Homo sapiens: one gene and its partners. The protein of the gene in region 2 interacts with the protein of the main gene of each other region in a pairwise test. Each region holds a gene or a part of one and is shown on either strand. Other genes may lie near its edges. The genes, in order: TULP3, ESRRG, CCDC33, ARHGEF15, PROX1 and C22orf23.

Evidence for each region.
Region 1: the proteins of ESRRG (region 2) and TULP3 interact in a two-hybrid assay, tested with the Homo sapiens proteins (one large-scale study listed by BioGRID and IntAct).
Region 3: the proteins of ESRRG (region 2) and CCDC33 interact in a two-hybrid assay, tested with the Homo sapiens proteins (one large-scale study listed by BioGRID).
Region 4: the proteins of ESRRG (region 2) and ARHGEF15 interact in a two-hybrid assay, tested with the Homo sapiens proteins (one study listed by BioGRID).
Region 5: the proteins of ESRRG (region 2) and PROX1 interact in a two-hybrid assay, tested with the Homo sapiens proteins (one study listed by BioGRID).
Region 6: the proteins of ESRRG (region 2) and C22orf23 interact in binary tests that used the Homo sapiens proteins (3 or more experiments, as listed by UniProt).

The regions. Positions count from the first base shown.
Region 1 is NC_000012.12:2,935,891-2,938,764, forward strand, and holds part of TULP3 (tubby-related protein 3), read left to right. Parts: intron 1-1,740; coding exon 1,741-1,839; intron 1,840-2,223; coding exon 2,224-2,395; intron 2,396-2,874. UniProt on the Homo sapiens protein: Negative regulator of the Shh signaling transduction pathway: recruited to primary cilia via association with the IFT complex A (IFT-A) and is required for recruitment of G protein-coupled receptor GPR161 to cilia, a promoter of PKA-dependent basal repression machinery in Shh signaling.
Region 2 is NC_000001.11:216,503,430-216,506,929, forward strand, and holds part of ESRRG (estrogen-related receptor gamma), read right to left. Parts: 3' UTR 1-3,500. UniProt on the Homo sapiens protein: Orphan receptor that acts as a transcription activator in the absence of bound ligand. Binds specifically to an estrogen response element and activates reporter genes controlled by estrogen response elements.
Region 3 is NC_000015.10:74,277,826-74,281,325, reverse strand, and holds part of CCDC33 (coiled-coil domain-containing protein 33), read right to left. Parts: intron 2,208-3,500; exon of another isoform or gene 2,034-2,207; intron 1,364-2,033; coding exon 1,234-1,363; intron 659-1,233; coding exon 525-658; intron 1-524.
Region 4 is NC_000017.11:8,320,241-8,323,011, reverse strand, and holds the end of ARHGEF15 (rho guanine nucleotide exchange factor 15), read right to left. Parts: intron 2,171-2,771; coding exon 2,019-2,170; 3' UTR 501-2,018; downstream 1-500. UniProt on the Homo sapiens protein: Specific GEF for RhoA activation. Does not activate RAC1 or CDC42. Regulates vascular smooth muscle contractility. Negatively regulates excitatory synapse development by suppressing the synapse-promoting activity of EPHB2.
Region 5 is NC_000001.11:214,008,473-214,011,972, reverse strand, and holds part of PROX1 (prospero homeobox protein 1), read right to left. Parts: intron 453-3,500; coding exon 258-452; intron 1-257. UniProt on the Homo sapiens protein: Transcription factor involved in developmental processes such as cell fate determination, gene transcriptional regulation and progenitor cell regulation in a number of organs.
Region 6 is NC_000022.11:37,943,602-37,947,101, forward strand, and holds part of C22orf23 (UPF0193 protein EVG1), read right to left. Parts: intron 1,573-3,500; coding exon 1,441-1,572; intron 917-1,440; coding exon 816-916; coding exon of another isoform or gene 714-815; exon of another isoform or gene 646-713; coding exon 574-645; 3' UTR 1-573.

The DNA of each region.
Region 1 (2,874 bases), on a different chromosome or scaffold from region 2:
CTTAGGAGGGTCGAGGCTGCAGTGAGCCGTGATCACACCATGCACTCTAGCCTGGGCGACAGCATGAGACCCTGTTTAAAAAATAATAATAATCGGCCAGGCGTGGTGGCTCACGCCTGTAATCCCAGCACTTTGGGAGGCCGAGGCCGGTGGATCACCTGAAGTCAGGAGGTGGAGACCAGCCTGGCCAACATGGCAAAAACCCGTCTCTACTAAAAATACAAAAAAAATTAGCCAGGCGTGGTGGCAGGCACCTGTAATCCCAGCTACTCGGGAGGCTGAGGCAGGAGAATCGCTTGAACCCAGGAGGCAGAGGTTGCAATGAGCCAAGATTGTGCCACTGCACTCCAGCCTGGGTGACAGAGCAAGACGCCATCTCAAAATAAAATAAGAATAATCTGCTTGGCTTGACAGGCATTTTTAATACCTAGTGCAGGCCTTATTTAACCACAACTAATTTTCACTGTATGTAATATAGTGCTATGCCCTCACTGGGAAATAAATATGTGTTGGTGCTGACAAAGTTGAACAGTTTGTTCACAGTTATCTCAAATCACATTTAAGACTCAAGAGTAAGAGGCCGGGCGTGGTGGCTCACTCCTGTAGTCACAGCACCTTGGGAGGCCAAGATGGGCGGATCACCTGAGGTCGGGAATTCGAGACCAACATGGAGAAACCCCGTCTCGACTAAAAAAAAAAAAAAAATACAAAATTAGCCGGGTGTGGTGGCGCATGCCTATAATCCCAGCTACTCAGGCTGAGGCAGGAAAATTGCTTGAACCCGGGAGGCGGAGGTTGTGGTGAGCTGAGATTGTGCCATTATACTCCAGCCTGGGCAACAAGAGTGAAACTCTGGTCCCAAAAAAAAAATAGTTAAGAGTAAACTCTCAAGCCAAGAGATTCTGTTTTAAATGTAGGTGTTTAAAGAAGGTATAGGCCAGGTGCAGTGGCTCACGCCTGTAATCCCAGCACTTTGGGAGGCTGAGGCAGGCAGATCACGAGGTCAGGAGATCGAGACCATCCTAGCCAACTTGGTGAAACCCCGTCTCTACTAAAAATACAAAAAATAATTAGCCAGGCGTGGTGGCATGCGCCTGTAGTCCCAGGCTGAGGCACAGGAATCGCTTGAACCCAGGAGGTGGAGATTGGAGGTTGCAGTGAGCTGAGATTGTGCCACTGCACTCCAGCCTGGCGACAGAGCGTGACTCTGTCTCAAAAAAAAAAAGAGAAGTATAAAGAGATATAATATTACTTTCCTGTTTTTGATTCTGTTTACAGCAAAGTAATAAAATTATTTTTGGTACACCTGATTTTTTTTTTTTTTTTTTTTTTTTTTTTTTTCTGAGGCAGAGTCTCACTCTTGTCGCCCAGGCTGGAGTGCAACGGCGTGATCTCGGCTCACTGCAGCCTCTGCCTCCTGGGTTCAAGCAATTCTCCTGCCTCAGCCTCCCGAGTAGCTGGGATTACAGGCGCCTGCCACCACGCCTGGCTAATTTTTGTATTTTTAGTAGAGACAGGGTTTCACCATGTTGGCCAGGCTGGTCTCAAACTCCTGACCTCAGGTTATCTGCCCACCTCGGCCTCCCAAAGTGCTGGGATTATAGGCGTGATCCACTGCCCCGGCTGATACAGCTGATATTGTCAGCATCTTACATTCCCAAGAAAGTCTCATGTTATAAAAGAATGTGGTCTCTATTTTTTTCCTGTTTCCAAGTTCTGCTTTGTTTTCCTATCTTCCAGGAAACAAACGTACTTGGATTTAAAGGTCCTAGGAAAATGTCTGTGATCATTCCTGGAATGACACTGAATCATAAGCAGATCCCCTATCAGCCACAAAACGTGAGTAAGAATGTATTTAAATCAGTGAAAGACTCTAAAAGACAGTAGTACAATACACAGAGATTAATACAAAAAAAAAAAAAAAGATTGAGCTTCCAGAGCCCCACACTGGAGATAGCTCCATACACTTCTTTAGGAAAGCTGCCCCTCCAAAACCTCAGGATAAGAGCAGTTGCAGAGTCATTGCCTTGAAACCATTTTTTCTACAAAGAGAAATGCTGGATGATGTAGAATAATTTTAAAAAAAACCTGTCTTCATTGTTGGCTTTCATTCTTCGCTTCTGGTTTACCCTTTCTGAAATGGAGAAAGTATTCTCCTACTCTACCTTCTACCTCGTAGAGTTGGAGTTCTCAGTACAAAGTAATGATTTTCCCTTTGGACAGAACCATGACAGTTTGCTCTCAAGGTGGCAGAACAGAACTATGGAAAATCTGGTTGAGCTGCACAACAAGGCCCCCGTCTGGAACAGTGACACTCAGTCCTATGTCCTCAACTTCCGTGGCCGGGTCACTCAGGCGTCTGTGAAGAACTTCCAGATAGTCCACAAAAATGACCGTAAGCCTCCAGGAGGGGTTGGGTGGGAAGAGGAGGACAGATGCTCTTACAGGATGGGAATGCACATTCCCTGTACATGATAGGAAGTGACAGTCAGCAGATAATCATGGAGGAGAGACAGGATTTCTTTGGAAAGATGAAACTACAGTTTTAGAGAAAACTTGTAAATCACTGTGTTGAGGAGGGGAGAGGAGTGTGAGAGAGATGCTATAGCAAATCAGAGAAGTTGGCTGGGCACCATGGCTCACGTCTGTAATCCCAGCACTTTGGGAGGCCGAGGTGGGCAGATCGCTTGAGACCAGCCTGGGCAACATGGTGTGAAACCCCATCTCTACAAAAAATAGAAAAATTAGCTGGGCGTGGTGGCAGGCACTTGTAGTCCCAGCTACCCGGGAGGCTGAGGTGGGAGCATCACTTGAGCCAGGAGGTCGAGGCTGCAGTGAGCTGAGATTGCATCACTGCTCTCCAGCCTGGGTGAC
Region 2 (3,500 bases):
GGTACACATCACAAAAATATACAATTGATTGCTTTACAGATGTGAAGCCCATCTACAGCTATAGACATGGTTTTATTATTATTATTATTATTTTTACTACTGGCTATAATGCAACTCCTGGATTATTATAAGCAGTTTAAATTTTTTGTCCTTTTACGATCTTTGCACATAAGACTGCCATAAAATGTTTTCCTAGGCAGGTAAACAGAGACGCTTAAATAATTAAAATACAATCACCAACACCCATTTTCTCTTCTATAAGAAAAATAGCAGTTTTAAATTTTTTATATCTTTTATGTTATCATTTAAATGCAAAATAGTGGAATAAATACAACAATCTGATCTGATTGAAACACAAGTGTAACTACAAGGAGTCACACAATCATATTGCTTTAAATAAGAACGAACCTAAAAGAAGCAAAATTAAAATTAAAATCATATGGCTAAAACATACACCTTTATAACTTTCCAAAACTTCACATTAAGTAAATGGTCTTGCTTGAAACTTGAGAAGACTTCCCTCTAGTGAGGTTTAAGATGAGCATTTACCCTAAAGCCCGTGCAGTTCTTTTTAAATCCACGTTTTAGTTTTATTTCCTATTTGTGAGATACTTACTCTTTTGTAATGCTGAGAGTTACTTAAACTGAAAACTAAAAAATTGTATCTCATTCTTTGAACATATCTCCATCTCAGGTTTTCAGTTGGTTGGCTCTTACTTCTGAAGCCCAAGTACTTTAATGTGATACAGTGAAAACAATGTATATATTGTATATATTTTATTTATATATAGTGTAGTTGAATAGTAGCAACTTAAACCCTGCACAAACTTTCTGGAAAATAATCTTTTTAAACACTTACATATATAAATAATCTTATAGAATCAGCACCTTTTTTCCCAGGAGTTGTATTTTCTGTTGTTATTTTTAAAGGGATGTGCCAATTTCTGAACTCCTATCACAGCTATAAATTTCAAGTTATTGACCATCTGAATGAATTGCTAATGATGATTTATCTAGAATCACACTACAGTCACTTCTCTACTGAGAAACCACAATCTACAATATAGTCCCATATAGCTAATGATAGATACACAGTATTCCTAGCACTGGGTTGATGTTTCATCAACCCAAGGTATTTTGTTTAAAGCACACAAAGTAGCAATAGTTTTGGAAACGAATCTGCACCAAAAAGTTTTGCAACAACACAGAGCGAGTTAATAACAACATCTGAGAGATGATTGAGTGAAAGCCATATATACAGCATTTAAAAATTAGACTTATCTATATTCTTGAAATATTCAAAGTTTTATTTCTAAGCTATACATTGGTATTCTATAATAAACCATTAGAGAAATTATTCCTTGTTTTGAAAATATTATTATGATTTTGATGTGTATCTGTTCATAATGAATACTTGTTTGGAGTTTCAATCTCTTAATTATTATTAGGAAGAACCTTATTACTGGTAAGGAATAGAATATACTACTGTAGTCTCCTGAGGAATTGTACATCCAATATTGTCTCTAATTCTACCCTGTGTCTAAAAGCACACACCACAAGAATCCAAACACCACAAGAACAAGACAACAGTCTTTGAATGCAACATAAAATTCAGAAAAGCACAGCAAACATGAAACATTGAAAAGCTGAACTACATTTCTTTTGTTTGTTAGGATTACAATTTTAATTACATCTGTGTACATAGAATAAGACTGTTCACATAATACAGGGAGCAGCTACTAACACTGGTCCATTGGTATAGCATTTGATGGAGGTTACTGTTTATTGGTTATTCAGCGACTGTAGATTTCGGGGCATCTAATTGATTTCTTCATTAGATTACACCTCTTAACAGTCTGGAACCTGACTTGACTTTCATGCTGTGACAATACTGGTTGAAAAGCACATATATTGGCTTAGCTCTTGGTAAAAACTGCAGATTAATTTAAACGAACATTCCTAAATGAATAAACTTATATGGATTAGGTTTTAGAATTTGGTCAGGCATTTTCTGTCTTTGATGATTTTTTTTTTTAATTCTGGCATTTGCCTTATTGCCTCTTAAATGAATACTGGCTCACAGCTCCTTCTGAGGCAAGGTCTGTGACTTTGCAAACAGGCAGTATCACATTCCTAACCACCATGGCAGCTAGAAATCATATGGCAATTGTACCTCCCAAGTAGAGAGGTGCACTCCTGACAATTCTACGGATCTATATCTCATGTGCAGTGCTTATATATGTGACTACTCAGAGTCACTGTAGGTGTAATCTCATCCTTTGTGTCAGTGAACATTTAGGTAAACTGGAGCTCATGTTAAGAAATTGATGTTTGGGACCAGACTGGCACACAACATAAATTGCATCCGTGATAATATGCACCTTCCCTTCAACTATTGCTTGAGTAAGTTAAATTCCCATATTAATAAATGGCTGAAAAGTGGTAAAGCTGGTACAAAAAAATCTCCATTTGTAAGAAGAAACAAAACATTTTTAAAAATCTTCCTTCAGGATTCATTTGTCCTTCATTATTGTTCGTAATTGTTCAAAGCCAGCACAAAATTGCAGTATTCTTATTTCTCTTTAGTATTGCATGAATGAATAAAGCTTAAACTATTCCCTGAAAAAGTTACATAGTAGCTAAACTAACAAATACCTGGAAGACTTGAAAAAACAATTAAGGAATCAAATGGCTGTAACTGATCTAGATGGAAAAGCAATGATAAGAAGCAGCCGATGCAACGTTGCTTAAGTTGTCTAATTAGAGGCTGCTCCCATGAAATCTAATACTGCACTCAGTCAATTTGTATATGTTGCACTGTACTTTTAGGAACGTTGGTTCTCTCTCTTTGATTCCTTAGTCATTGGGGACAGTATGGTTCACAATAAGTTCACTGGCATCCATATTATGGATCTCCATCCTTTGGCAGGGCTGGCTTCCATCTCTCTTCAGTTAGAGACCTCTTTTAAAAGTTCAGCAGCAGAAGGAAGAAAAAGAAAGATGGAAAGAAGGTCAAGAGGAAAGGAAAGGAAAGGGAAAAGGAAAGGGAAAAAGGAAAGAAAGGGAAAGGAAAGGGGGAAGGGAGGATTTTTTTTTAAACTAAAGCTATTTCAAATTTAGAAAAAAGGGGAAGGATGAGAAAAGAGAGGAATGAGAGTAGGTAAAGAAAAGAAAGAAGGCAGGCAGACGGGAAGAAAATAAAGGAGAATGGGAACTAGGAATGAAAGAAGCAAAGAAATAAGGGAGGTGAAAGAAGAAAAGGAGAAAAAATAAAGAGAAAGAGAAATGTGGGAAGAAAGAGGAAAGAAGATGATGGAGAAAGTAGAAAGAAACTCATCAGGAACCTATGGAGGAATCTGAAAGCTGCTTCATAGTCTTGCTGCTAAATTATCAGTGCAGTCTGTTGATTTTTGATGTTGTTAACTAAACTCTAAGTTTCTTCGACATCACTCTTGGGTTTATTTTCCCTTTTTCAACATGAAGGATGGGAAGGCCCAGGG
Region 3 (3,500 bases), on a different chromosome or scaffold from region 2:
ACACTTTCAGTAGTTTTCCCATGGTCATGTTAGCTGGTATGTGGTGGAACCAGAATTTGGACCCAGACAGTCTGGCTCTAGAGCCTGAGCTCTGAACTCTCTTGTTATACACAGAGATTGTGTACTTGGCATGCTTCTCCTGTGTTACAGACGAGGACTCTTGTGGTTCAGTAATGTGCCTGAATTTCCACAGTGAGGATTTGAACTGTGGTTCAAATCAGGGTCTGGCTGGCTGAAAGCCTGAACTCTTGCACTGTCTCACAGGGTCACCCTGTACTTGTCTCCCAAGTTGCTCAGGGGCAATTTCTCTGGCTTGGTTCGTCATAGTCCCAGAGGCAAGACTGGCTTCTGGGGTTCCAGGGAGCTCCTCACTTCTAGACTGGGTGACTTCCCTGGTGGGTGCCTTGACAGAAGCTTCTGGAGAAGCCAAATTCTCCTATGGAGGTGTGGTGAGGTGGGGCAGGGTGAGGCAGGGTGGGGCCAGGTGGGCACGCTAGGGGCCCAGTTCAGGGCAGGGGGCTCACCATGATGGGGAGCCGCTCCACGTGAAGCCCGTCCAAGCCTTTCCCTGTCAGCATCTTCTGGTACAAACGGCTCTTTAGCGGCAACACAGAGATGCCCAGGGGCTGGTTGAGGGTCCACGGCTGGCTGCCTTTCACTGTGGGGGAAGGATCAACTAGGGCTCCTGCCAAAGCCCCCACCTCGGCCCCATCCTTTAATACCTGACATCCAGTCCTCCTGTCTCCCGCTGCCTGCTTTCCTGCCTCCTGGCCTTTCCCTGCACATACATCCTCTTCTCATCTTCAGGGCTTTGTGAACTCAAAGCCAACTCTAAACATACTCTGTGTGTCTGGGAATTTATATACATCAGCCTCATCTCTACCCTTTGGGGGCTTCAATCCCACAGTGCAGAAAACTGTGGATCAGCTGGTCTCTGAAGCCCATCTCCCTCACCCCTCTCTGTGAGTTCCGAGGGCTCCAGCCCTCCCCCATCACTGATGGGTGCAATAAAACAAAGCTTGGGGCCAAGACCTAGTATGGGACAGGCCCACGTGTCCTGGCCTGTGGACAAGGAACGCAGCCAGCTCTCCTCTGCCTGCATTAGGAAGCCGCCTGGACACCTGGGAACCATCCATCCCTGTGGGAGGCAGAGGTGGGATGGTCTGAACACCCTTTCATAATACAGATCTCCTGAGGCATGGCTGCCCTGGCGAGGCACCAGGGGTCACGTACTTGAAGTTGAGGAGTAGTACTCCAGCACCAGGGCTGTGTCTTCTGAGAAGCTGGTAGCTCCATCTCGGCCTTGGAAGAGGAAGGACTGATTCCACAGGGGCTGCTCTGGGGGTCCCCCAGGCTTGGACAGCTGGAGGGAGAGGGTAGGAGCAGGTGGTGGGGGCCACAGCTTCTCCCAAATCAAGGCATACACAGATATTTGGTTTTGTGTATCTAGATTTGTCACAAATGTTTCTCCCAACTATAAAAGCAAGCTGGCTGGGCACAGTGGCTCACGCCTGTAATTCCAGCACTTCGGGAGGCCAAGGCAAGTGGATCACTTGAGGTCAGGAGTTCAAGACCAGCCTGGCCAACATGGCAAAACCCTGTCTCTACTAAAAATACAAAAATTAGCTAGGTGTGGTGGGGGACTCCTGTAATCCCAGCTACCCAGGAGGCTGAGGCAGGAGAACTGCTTGAACCCGGGGGGGCAGAGGTTGCCCTGAGATGAGATTGCGCCACTGTACTCCAGCCTGGGTGACAGAGCGAAACTCCGTCTCTAAATAAATAAAATAAATAAATAAATAAATAAACAAATAAATGCAGCACACACCTAATAAATACATTTAGGAAAATGCAGAAAAATAGGAAGAAGAAAAACAGCTCCTGTGTTCCTATGATAAACACAATAATTCATAAAACTGTGCTTCTTCCTAGTTTTTTTCTGTGTATATTTTGTGTATAATCACCATTCTAGCATCCTGCATTTTTCATTTGCCAGTAAAACCTAAGCAGATCCAAAGTCACAGAAAGCTCATTACCCATGACTTGAGTAACTTCAGGATATGAAGTTCATGTCCAAGTGCCCTGATTTCTTCCTTCCCATTTTTCCCTGTAATAACACTGCATTGAACGTTCTCTGCTACATATCTTCATGTCGCAAATTACTTCCTTAGTACAACTACCTAAAATGGAATTGCTGGGTTATAGGACATGTGTATTTTAGGACACCTCATTCATTATTGGTAAACTGTTTTCCTAAAGTGTTGTATCTGTGTTCACACCCATGGCTGGTGGTGTCACAGATGCCAAGTTAGACATGACCTCTGTCTGTGTCACCAGCCCCTCTCTTTCCCACACAGTTTCCCCAGCCCCTTGCAGAGGCCAAGACATCTCTGCAGACTACAGAGGCTCCGTGTGCCCGCAGTGTGGGCCAGTGGGCACTCGGGGGACTTGATGGCACCCTAGGTCAGCAGTTAGGGCACACACATGGGTATGATTTAAACAATGAAACAAGACAGTATTAACTGTAGCACTGCCCAATAAGAGAGCTATATGAAATATTCCCATGGGTGGTCAGAAAAGCCTCCTTAAAGGAAGCAGAACCAGAGAAAGGCTCTGAAGGAAGGTCTGGCTGGGTGAAGAGAGGGATAAAGGTCTTCAGGATGGGAAAACAGCACAATCAAAAATGTGGAGTGGCACTGAGCACACCCTGTGCAGAGGACGCCTGAAATGAGGAGAGACTCCAGGGGGAGGCCCAGCATCTGCCAAGGCCAGAAGGTGGGAGATGGGAGATGGCCATCGGCCCATAACTCCCAGCAGGCAGCCCTGCAGGGTCCCAGCACAGGGCGGGGCTGCGGGTCGTTGCTACAGACCCACCAAGTGGCTGCCTTGCCTCTGTTCCCCAGCCAGGGGCTGTCAGCAACAGTAGCAGCCGCTCCCACCTCCTGCTCCCCCACAGGAATCAGTCATTGCTCGAAAAGGTCAGCACAAATGCACTGCGGCTCCAGGAGTTATTGATGCAGGATCATGAAATATCAGTGTAGGTCCACTTCCCCACAGTGGCAGGGTGCTGATGACGGTCACACTAATGGGCCTGGTTTGTCCAGGCCCAGCCCAAGGCTCAGCTGTGTCTGCCCCTGCCCCTGGGGAGATGGGTTGCAGTCACTGCAGGGCTAGGGTGCCCTGGACACCTGAACAGAGACTGCAATGATGGGAACATCCCACTTCTTATGGGAGCTTGGCCAACAGGTCCGGTGAGAGAAGTTGGTTCTGACTTCTGTGGGGCTTGGGAGTGATCTTTCAAGATTGATCCCCAAACCATGTCCCTCCCAGAGTCACCCCATTCTCCTGGGTGCAGGAGGGTCCACATGGCTGGGACTGTCTGCCAGGCATTGGGGCACCTGTGACTCAGTCCCCTGCCGTCCATACCTTGCTCCTACCCTGGAAGAGGGTTATTTAGTAGACGCTAGCTGCCCTTTCTGGGACCTATTCATGTGTCTAAATGG
Region 4 (2,771 bases), on a different chromosome or scaffold from region 2:
TTGCCTCAGCCTCCCGAGGAACTGGGACTATAGGCGCATGCCACTACACCTGGGTAATTTTGTATTTTTTGTAGAGACAGGGTTTCATTATGCTGCCCAGGCTGGTCTCAAACTCCTGAGCTCAAGTGATCTGCCCACCTCGGCCTCCCAAAGTGCTGGGATTACAGGTGCAAGCCACCGTGCCCGGCCCTGACTGCCCTTTTTATCCTTCTTGCTGCATTCTCATCCCCTGCCAAAGCCCCAGGCATTGCCCAGCCTGCAGCAGCCCCCAACCACAGCTGTTGCAAACCCACCACCATCGCCACAACCACCACCACCTGAGATCCCTCAGGAACTGTGAGTGGGCTAACACACTCAGGTCTAGCACATGACCTTCAAGCCCCAGTTCCCAACAGAATTGACCCCTGCTCTGGACCCCTTTCCAAGCAGCCCCATCCCCTTATAAACCATGCTTGGAGACCACTGCTCCTATAAGCACACACTTCCTCAGAGAGCCTCAATACAAATGCACCACTATTTACTGAGGGTTCCCCACACGTCAGGCACCCTGCTAGGGGAGTCTCCAATGTCATGGACATGCCAAATGCCAGTGCTCTTCGCCCTCTGAGTCTCCCGGAGTCCCTGTGCCTCCTGCAGTCAGGGTGACAGTGTCAGTCCTGGGCAAGTTGCTGTGCCTGAGCTGAAGGGGAGGCCTCGTCCCGGGCCTGGGCCCCCCTGCCAGCCACTGTCTGCCTTGCTGTCTCTGTCCCTCGCCTCCTCTGGTATCATGCGAGGCACTGGCTCATCTGGAAGCAGATGCTCTGGATGGGGTTGGGCAGCCACACCCGCTCTCCAATCTCTCCCCACTGTTTGGCCCAGTGTTTCTGTGAGAGGATCAGGACAAAGGCAAGAAAGCCCAGGAGGTTCACTGGCTGGCCTGTGGTCCACAGCTCCCGTTTCTTCACCCAGATGCAGGATCTAATGTGGTTCCAAAGCTCAAGGCTGAGGCTGGCTGGTGGATTATAGTTCAAGTTGGGAGATCTGCAGGCAGGAATTATGGAGGCCAGTGTTTGGGGCAAGGAGAAGGGTCTGCAGACTTCAGGGGCCTCAGGACCCAGCTACTGGCCATCTTCAGTCCCTTGGGCTCCTCTGCCAGGCCGTTGGCTGCTCCATAACATTGCCCTGCAACTGCCACAGAACCCTAGCCTCCAAGAGACCCAAAGCTCAGGGCTCTCATCCCCTGGGTGCCAAGCCACACCCAGCACAGTCTCTTCTGGAGCTCAGACTTAGCATCTTTCTTGGAGCGAATAATAGGAAAAATGGGGGGTAAAGGAAGAAATGGAGCACTCAGTCATTTGTGGGTCAGGAGCACAATCACCACACACACACCACAGTCAGCAGAATGCCTTTCCTGATACATATACACACATATCTACACATGCACATGTACACACACAGATTTTCTGAGACACATACTCTGAATTCTTCTGGAAGAGAAGAACTGGCTTGAGAGGGCACAGGAAGCATCCAGGAATGGAAACTAGTATTTCCCAGACTCAAAAGACAGGACCAGTCATTGCTGCAGAAACAAGCAGGGTGACTACTGGTCTCTTGGGTCCAGATCACCATTTTCTTTGGCTGATTGGCTTCCTGCTCATTCCTGTTCCCAATTTTATCCTACGACTTTATCTCCAATGAGGCCCTTTTTCAACTGCCATGACCTAGATTTGTCTTCCTTGGCCCTGAGCATAGCAGGAATACTCATTGGCCATAGGCTCAGCCAGCTCAGTACCCATTGGCTGCTCTGCACTAAGCCTCTGTCTCCATTGGCCACACATTCAAGGCATCCTCATTCATTCTTATTGCTGTGGGTTCAGGCGGCCGTTTTCATTGGCTGCTCTGTCCTGAAGCTCGATCTCTATGGTTGCCACGAGAGGTAGTATCTCCACTGACAGTGAATCCAATGGATGAATGGGCTTTGTTCTCTCCGTGCCACACTGGTAGGTGTCTCCCAACATGTGCCCCCTCCTCAGCCTGCATTAGGGTGGGGGGGCATTGGGGGTGCCTGAAGAAGATCCAACAGCCTCGAGAAGCCTCTGGTTCTGGCGAAGGTGCCTCCTCCTTTCGTGTTCCCCTGTGACTTCACACACCAGCTGGGCAGGGAAGGCCCCAGGAAGCCCCTTCAGCCAACCTGGGGGAAGAGAGACAGAGGCTCCAATGAGGTGGGGGCAGGGAGCAGGTGAGGAGGCAAAGGGGGCCTCGTGGGGTCTCAGGCCTTCAGGGTCATTGTAGGTGTGGGAATTCATGGACAAGCCTGGAGCATCGGTAGAAAGGGCATCAGAAGTGGAGGTGACAGCAGCTCGGAGAGAGTCTGGGCTGCTCTTCCGTCAAGCCCTGCAGTGGCTGCTCATGTCTCTTGGAGTAAGAGGTGGAGTCCTTGCAGAGACCTGTCAGGTCCTGCGTGATCCCATCCCTGCCACTTCTATGACCTCATTTGCTTCTCCCCCTTTCTCTCTCCTGCTAGTCACACTGGCCTCCTTACAGTTCCTCAGTCACACACCAGCCGCAGGGCCTTTGCACTGCCTGCTGCCTCCAGCTGGGACACTCTTCCCCCAGACACCATGGGCCTAAATTAGCTCCATCAAGCTTCATGTTGCCTTCTCAGTGAGGTCCACCTCGGCCTCCCTATTGAAAATTTCAGTCTGCCCAACCCTGGAACTCCTGACCTTCTTTGCTCTGCTCACTTTTTTTTTTTTCCATAACACTCATAACCTTCACATGTACTTTATAAT
Region 5 (3,500 bases), 2.5 Mb from region 2:
TTCCCTTTTCTGTGGCCAAATGAGTCTTCCACACAAGCTGAAAAGCCAGGGAATGGGGAAAAAATGGCAGTGGGTCAGAGCCTCATGATTCCAATGGGGACTATGGAAGCTCCTCATCACAGCTCTACCTGTTACTCTATTGGGGGATGCTTGTATGCGAAACCAACACAAAAACAGATTTGGGTACATTTCTAAAGAAAATAAATTTTTTAAAAAAGGAAAAGGGAGATGACCAAAAAATAAAGATTAGTTCCTACCTCAAAGTCATTTGCTTTATTGTAGTGCATGTTCAGAGCCCTGTACAGCTCACAGTCTCTGGTTATAGACAGCTCTTCAGTACTGGTGACCCCATCGTTGATGGCTTGACGTGCGTACTTCTCCATCTGAATGTAGTAAAACTCACGGAAATTGCTAAACCACTTGATGAGCTGAGAGGTAATGCATCTGTTGAACTGTTAAATTTAAATGTTGAAAAGGATAAGAACATTGCCATTTTCTTCATTTATTTTTTTAAGTGTCTGAAGCATTTTTAATGTTCCCGTCCCTTCTTTACTTGGAAAGATACGTATTTAACTCCACCAAAATGGTGGCAAGAGAGGCAAGAGGAAGAATATACTTACAAGAAATTATAAAAACCTGTCAGTAATGGAAATCATATCACAACCCTCTACCTTTCAAGTGGAAAAGTCACATTCTAAATCAGACTTTCCTTAAGCCGAACATCTTTATTTTTAACCATTGTTCTTCATCTTTCAGTAGAACAACTTGCATTTATATACTTCTTATGGACATTCATTGAAGCCATAGAATCCTGGAAGTGTTGTTACTCCCATGTACCAGAGGTGATGTGCCACATGACTCTACCACTAGTTTGATATACTTTTTTTTTTTAAGTGAGGATTTGTATCACCGCATTACAGCCCCCTTCAATGCAGACAAATGGCCTTCCCACAAAATGGGAGGAGTTGGCATTTGCTTATTTTTTTGGCAATGAGTGATTCCCATGTCCATCCAACTGTGATTCCACTTAATGTTTGCCCACGGCATTCATGTCTGGTGAGGTCTGGTCAGCTCCTGGTGCCTGTTCACCTGCTTCCTGAAGCCAGCATTGGATAAGACCCATGTCCCCCTCCCTTGGTATCTCTGCCATTTGGGAGGCATGGTTAGGACACAGTACACAGATGGCATAGACAGGAGCTTTATTACATTTTTTTAAATGCCAAGTTACTATAACATGGTTAGGCCTTAAAACTTTGTTTACCAAGGTTTCCTGATGACCTTTGAAATGAAGATGTCTTTCTGGATGCACTGCAAATGATACCATCCTTATTGACAGTCCTCTGCTCACGTAAAGGACAGATGAGTCTCAACTTGCCAAGTCAAAACCAATAAATCCATAGCTCTATATCAGGCGGGCTGACAGACAACCCCCTGCCTTTTGTCATCACAGGCATCCCCTTCCCTGGGCCCCCAGAAAAAGATGTACATTCATCAAAAATCAACAAAGAGCACTTATCAAACACAGGCCATGAGAACATCCAGACTCCAACAAGATGACAGCTAAAGTGTGTATTGGGGCTCTAATTACTACACAGAAAGTTGTTTCTATACTAGCAAAGATAATAAATGAATGAAAATTTATGGCAGAGAATGGAAGTCACAAGGAAACAGAAGCAGAGAGACTGGTGTTTCTCCCAAAAGGCCAACTTGCATCATAATTGCCATGGAGTTGCAAGGGCCCTTACAGATAATTGACCAGAAAATGATTAAGTCATCAGCAAATCGCTTCTGCTTGCAAGAGTTCAAACATGTACTTAACCTATCCAAGAATTATATTTTCACTCTGTGTGTCTGCTCTGTCTCTATTCAGCCTCGCGGGGAACCCGATTAAAAAGACAACTGAAGGACCCCCATTATCTGATCTTCTGGTTGCCGATTTCAATAGAACTTAAACCCATTACGATTTGCTGAACTTGGAGTTCTTTCCATTTTATCTCAGCAGTAAAATACACTGTCCAAATTTCCAGACACTGAGATAAGGACTACAGGCCCCCGTGACGGCTTACTGTTCCTTTTTAATTCTTTTAGAATAAGAAACAAAACATTACAAAATGATAGCAGGCTGTGCACTGGGGAATGAAAATTGCTTTGACATGGAGATTAGGCTTCTGCATTGTTACAAGACATTGTCTCATATGGACAAGAGTACTGTAGAGGAAAAAAATAGAAGGGTATTTTTTTTCTAGAATGGTCACGAATGACCTAATGGGGAGGACAAAAAAGTAAGTGCACTTGCCATTATTTACGAATGGGACATAAAGGGAGATTTAAAGCTTATTGTTGGAGAATGGAAATACCAGAGAGAAAGAATGGACAAAAACAACAGACTCCCCAAACATGAGGCAAGCGAAATGACCAGCCCAACAGCCTAAGGAACAGGGTTTCCCTCCAGGAGAAGTGAACTAAAATTTGTTCAGTTTTAGTCGCCGGCTAAAAGCAAAAGCAAGCCCCCGCTTTTCTAGATATTCACACTGGGGGAGAAAAAGTATTAAACTTTAAAGAGTTAATTTCCCTCATTCTGTAGTGGCTTACAAGAAAAGGATCAATTGTTCTATAAAGGAAAGCTCTGTAGTGTGTTAATGTGTTACTGCAAAAACTAATCGCTACAATAAAGAGGCTGTGTTTCCACAGTGTACGAGTCTCTGTGACTTTGATTAATGCTTCCCACGGGACATCTCAGCCTCAATATGGGCTGAAGAAACTTCCTAAATATTCAATGAGCATGGTCAAAAGATGTATAAAACAAATCAATCTGACACCTTAATCTGGCTAGGCAGCAGTTGACTCAAGGGGTGGAGGGAATGAGATACATCATTTAACACTGCCGGCTTGAAAAGCTGTGAGCGTCTGTTCTTCAAAGCTAAAATGACACTGAATCTGCTGTACTTAGTGGTCTAAGAGTTATTAGTTTGTACATTAAAATCAGCACCCAGTAGTGAACAGGGAGCTGGTGCGGCCCATCGATCCCTGGCAGCTCTCTCACATTTGTCCACTTGTCCTTCTCAAAGGATTTGTAGCCCCGATGAGCTGAGCTTTTTGTTTGGCTAAATGTCATTATGAGGGAATTAAGTTGGCTCTCTGTGAGAACATAGAACTTTGTTTAGATTCTTGCTCTAGGAGTTAAACTAGGTCGGCCCTGGTTTCATCCTTCATATACATCACCCCTGTAGAAGAAGAACTCTCGCCATGCCAACATCTCTGAATTGTATGATTTCCCTCTACCTCTTTCGTTCCAAGGTAATTGAAAAGCATTTACCTCTTACCCAGGTGGAAGTCATTTGTGGAGAGTTAAGCACTGTGTCCATTCCTAAGGAGAAATACAAAGGAGTGGGCACCACTTTGGCATGACTCACCTTCTAGAGCAAGTCAGAGGATTTACCCCATCTAGCTCTATCCTCCAAGTGTGGCTTTGATGGACCATTACGTTATACCATATTCAG
Region 6 (3,500 bases), on a different chromosome or scaffold from region 2:
CCAAGAGGTTGGTTCCCGTTGCCACTTGAAATATGCAAACAGGTAGCTAGAAACCATCTGGGCTTGACAAAGTCTAATGCCTTGAACAAATAAGCTTATCCCTCTGAAAACAAAATGGTGCTTGTAATGACCCACGTTAAATATGTTTTATTGGCCAGTTAATCATTGTGGTTGAATACTTGCCTAAGGCGGTAAGAAATCAAATAAGTAAATCCTAAAACAGGAAGAAAGGAATCATATTCATTCCTGAATTCAGAAAACTAAATGAACAGGCCACAGGTCAGAAGTGGTGGGAAGCAGGCCCAGTGGATACCTTTAGACACATGTCCTAGTAGGGATGCTCGGGCTTTGCTTCTCTGCGGACGGGGCTGTGAGTCTCAGAGGCTCCATCTGCATTCCGGGGCAGGGGCTAGGCTGCTGAGTATGCCTTGGGGTACTGCAGGGCAGTGCTATGCCACCACCTGACGTGGCAGAAGGCTGGTAGGATGGGCTGGCCTGAGGATGGCCCTGCCTGGCAGAGGAGTGGACTCCAGTGGTCGAGCTTGGGCTACCCTGCCCGTCTCTGGAGACAGATTAAGTGGTGGCAAGACCCTTCCTAAGTTCCTCACTCCTTCTGTGGTCAATGTCTTCCATTTCCCGGAGTTTCTGCAAAGGGCATCAGGGAAAGCAGGTGTATCAGGGCTAGGAACCTGAGGAGCTGTCACAGCAGTGAGCTAGAGCCTGACCCCTGAACCCTGCCACAGCAGACCCTGTATTTCCATTCGCACTTGGCGCTGGGCCCTTCCCCTCCCCACTTTCCTGGTTGTTTCTCCTACCTGGGAGATTTCAGCAAGGATGATTCCTCGGTACTGTTTGCCCTGTCCCAGGGCCTCCATGTCAGCCAGGAATTCTTTCCTCTCCTGGATTTCCTTCACCACTGGACAGAGGAGAGGGCTGTCAGGTTCCCATGAGGGATGCAGGCAGCGGGTTGCCTCTCTTGAGGAGAGGAAGTGGTTCTATTGTCAAATAGTGTTTCTAGGCCGGGCGCGGTGGCTCACGCCTATAATCCCAGCACTTTGGGAGGCCAAGGCAGGTGGATCACGAGGTCAGGAGTTCGAGACCAGCCTGACCAACATGGTGAAACCCCGTGTCTACTAAAAATACAAAAATTAGCCAGGCATGGTGGCGGGCGCTGGTAATCCCAGCTACTCAGGTGGCTGAGGCAGGAGGGATTGCTTGAACCTGGGAAGTGGAGGCTGCAGTGAGCCCAGATCACGCCACTGCACTCTAGCCTGGGCAATAAGAGCAAGACTGTCTCAAAATAAATAAATAAATAAATAAATAGTGTTTCTCACTTGTTGGCCCTTGGCCCTCAGGGATCCCCTGACTGCTCCATCCAATTCTGGGCCCCCTCCTCACATTACCCCCACCCCCAGCATGACTGGTCCGTCGGAGTCTTACGCTCTTCAAATCGGTCTAGCTCAGGGGCTGGAGCCTTCTGTCGTGCAGGAGGGGCCTTTCTTTTCCGTTCCTCCATGTCCTTCCCTGTGGCAAAGATATTTTGGAGTCTTTGTTTCTCCTTCTCCAAATCCCCTGTAGGGCCAAAAAGAAATGGCCTAGTTAGGCTGTAAAGGGTGCCCTTATTCATGGTCTGTGTTCCCAAGTGCACGTGCTTGCTGCAGGGTGCCTGGTCATGCAGACAGGGCTTCCGTACACCTGCTGCTACCCTGGGTTCTCCTGAGCAATACTGTACTGTCAAGAGAGGCAGGAAGAGGTGGAAAGAACCAAGAAAAGAGTTTGGGTATGGTCTGTAATTCCAACACTTTGGGAGGCTGAGGTGGGAGGATTGCTTAGGACCAGGAGTTCAAGACCAGCCTAATGGATGTAGTGAGACCCCCATCTCTTTTTTTCTTCTTTTTTTTTTTTTTTTTTGAGACAAGGTCTGACTCTGTCGCCCAGACTGGAGTGCAGTGATACAATTTCGGCTCACTGCAACCTCTCGGGCTCAAGTCATCCTCCCACCTCAGCCTCCCGAGTAGCTGGGACTACAGGTGGACGTCATCGTGCCCAGCTAATTTTTGTATTTTTTTTTTTTTAGTAGAGATGGAGTTTTGCCATGTTGCCCAGGCTGGTCTCAAACACATGAGCTCAAACGATCTGCCAGCCTCGGCCTCCCAAAGTGCTGGAATTACAGGCATGAGCCATCACGCCTGACCGATATCCTATCTCTAAAAAAAAAAAAAAAAAAAAAGTCCAGGCACGGTGGCTCACACCTGTAATCCTAGCACTTTGGGAGGCTGAGGCAGGCAAATCATGAGGTCAGGAGTTCGAGACCAGCCCAGCCAACATGGTGAAACCCCATCTCTACTAAAAATACAAAAAATTAGCTGGGCATGGGCCGGGCGCGGTAGCTCATGCCTGTAATCCCAGCACTTTGGGAGGCCGAGGTGGGCGGATCACGAGGTCAGGAGATCAAGACCATCCTGGCTAACACGGTGAGACCCCACCTCTACTAAAAATACAAAAAAATTAGCCCGGCGTGATGGCAGGTGCCTGTAGTCCCAGCTACTCGGGAGGCTGAGGCAGGAGAATGGCGTGAACCTGGGAGGTGGAGCTTGCAGTGAGCCGAGATGGTGCCACTGCACTCCAGCCTGGGCGACAGAGCAAGACTCAGTCTCAAAAAAAAAAAAAATTAGCTGGGCAGGGCATGGTGATGGTGCCTGTAATCCTAGCTACTTGGGAGGCTGAGGCATGAGAATTGCCTGAACCCAGGAGGTGGAGGTTGCAGTGAGCCGAGATCGTGCCACTGTACTCCAGCCTGGGTGACAGCGCGAGACTCCGTCTCAAAAAAAGCTGGGTGTGGGGAACACCTGTGGTCCCAGCTATTCTGGAGACTGAGGCAGGAGGATTGCTTGAGCTCAGGAGTTCTGGCTGCAGTGAGCTATGATCATGCCACTGTATTACAGAATGGGTGACAGAATGAGAGCGACACTGTCTCAAAAAAAAAAAAAAAAAAAGGCCGGGAGCGGTCGTTTGTGCCTGTAATCCCAACACTTTGGGAGGCCAGGGTGGGCGGATCACTTGAGGCCAGGAGTTCAAGACCAGCCTGGCCAACATGGTGAATCCCCATCTCTACTAAAAAAATTAACTGGACATGGTGGTGGACACTTGTAATCCCAGCTACTCAGGAGGCTGACACATGAGAATTGCTTGAACCCGGGAGGCGGAGGTTACAGTGAGCCGAGATAGCACCACTGCACTCCAACCTGGGCACAGAGTAAGGCTCTGTCTTTAAAAAAAAAAAAAAAAAAAAAGTTTTGTCAAAACTTAGCAGAGCAAGGCTAAGAAAGCTCAGGAACCTGGGGCCTCGGCGATGCCTGTAGTGGCAACTTATGTATAGGGGCTGCAGGGAGAGGTTAGGCTGTGGCATTGAGCCCTGATAGCCCCTATCATCAGGAAGTGGTAGATTTCAGTTAATCCTGAGTTCTGGAAAAATAAAAAAAAAAGGACCATCTGACTGG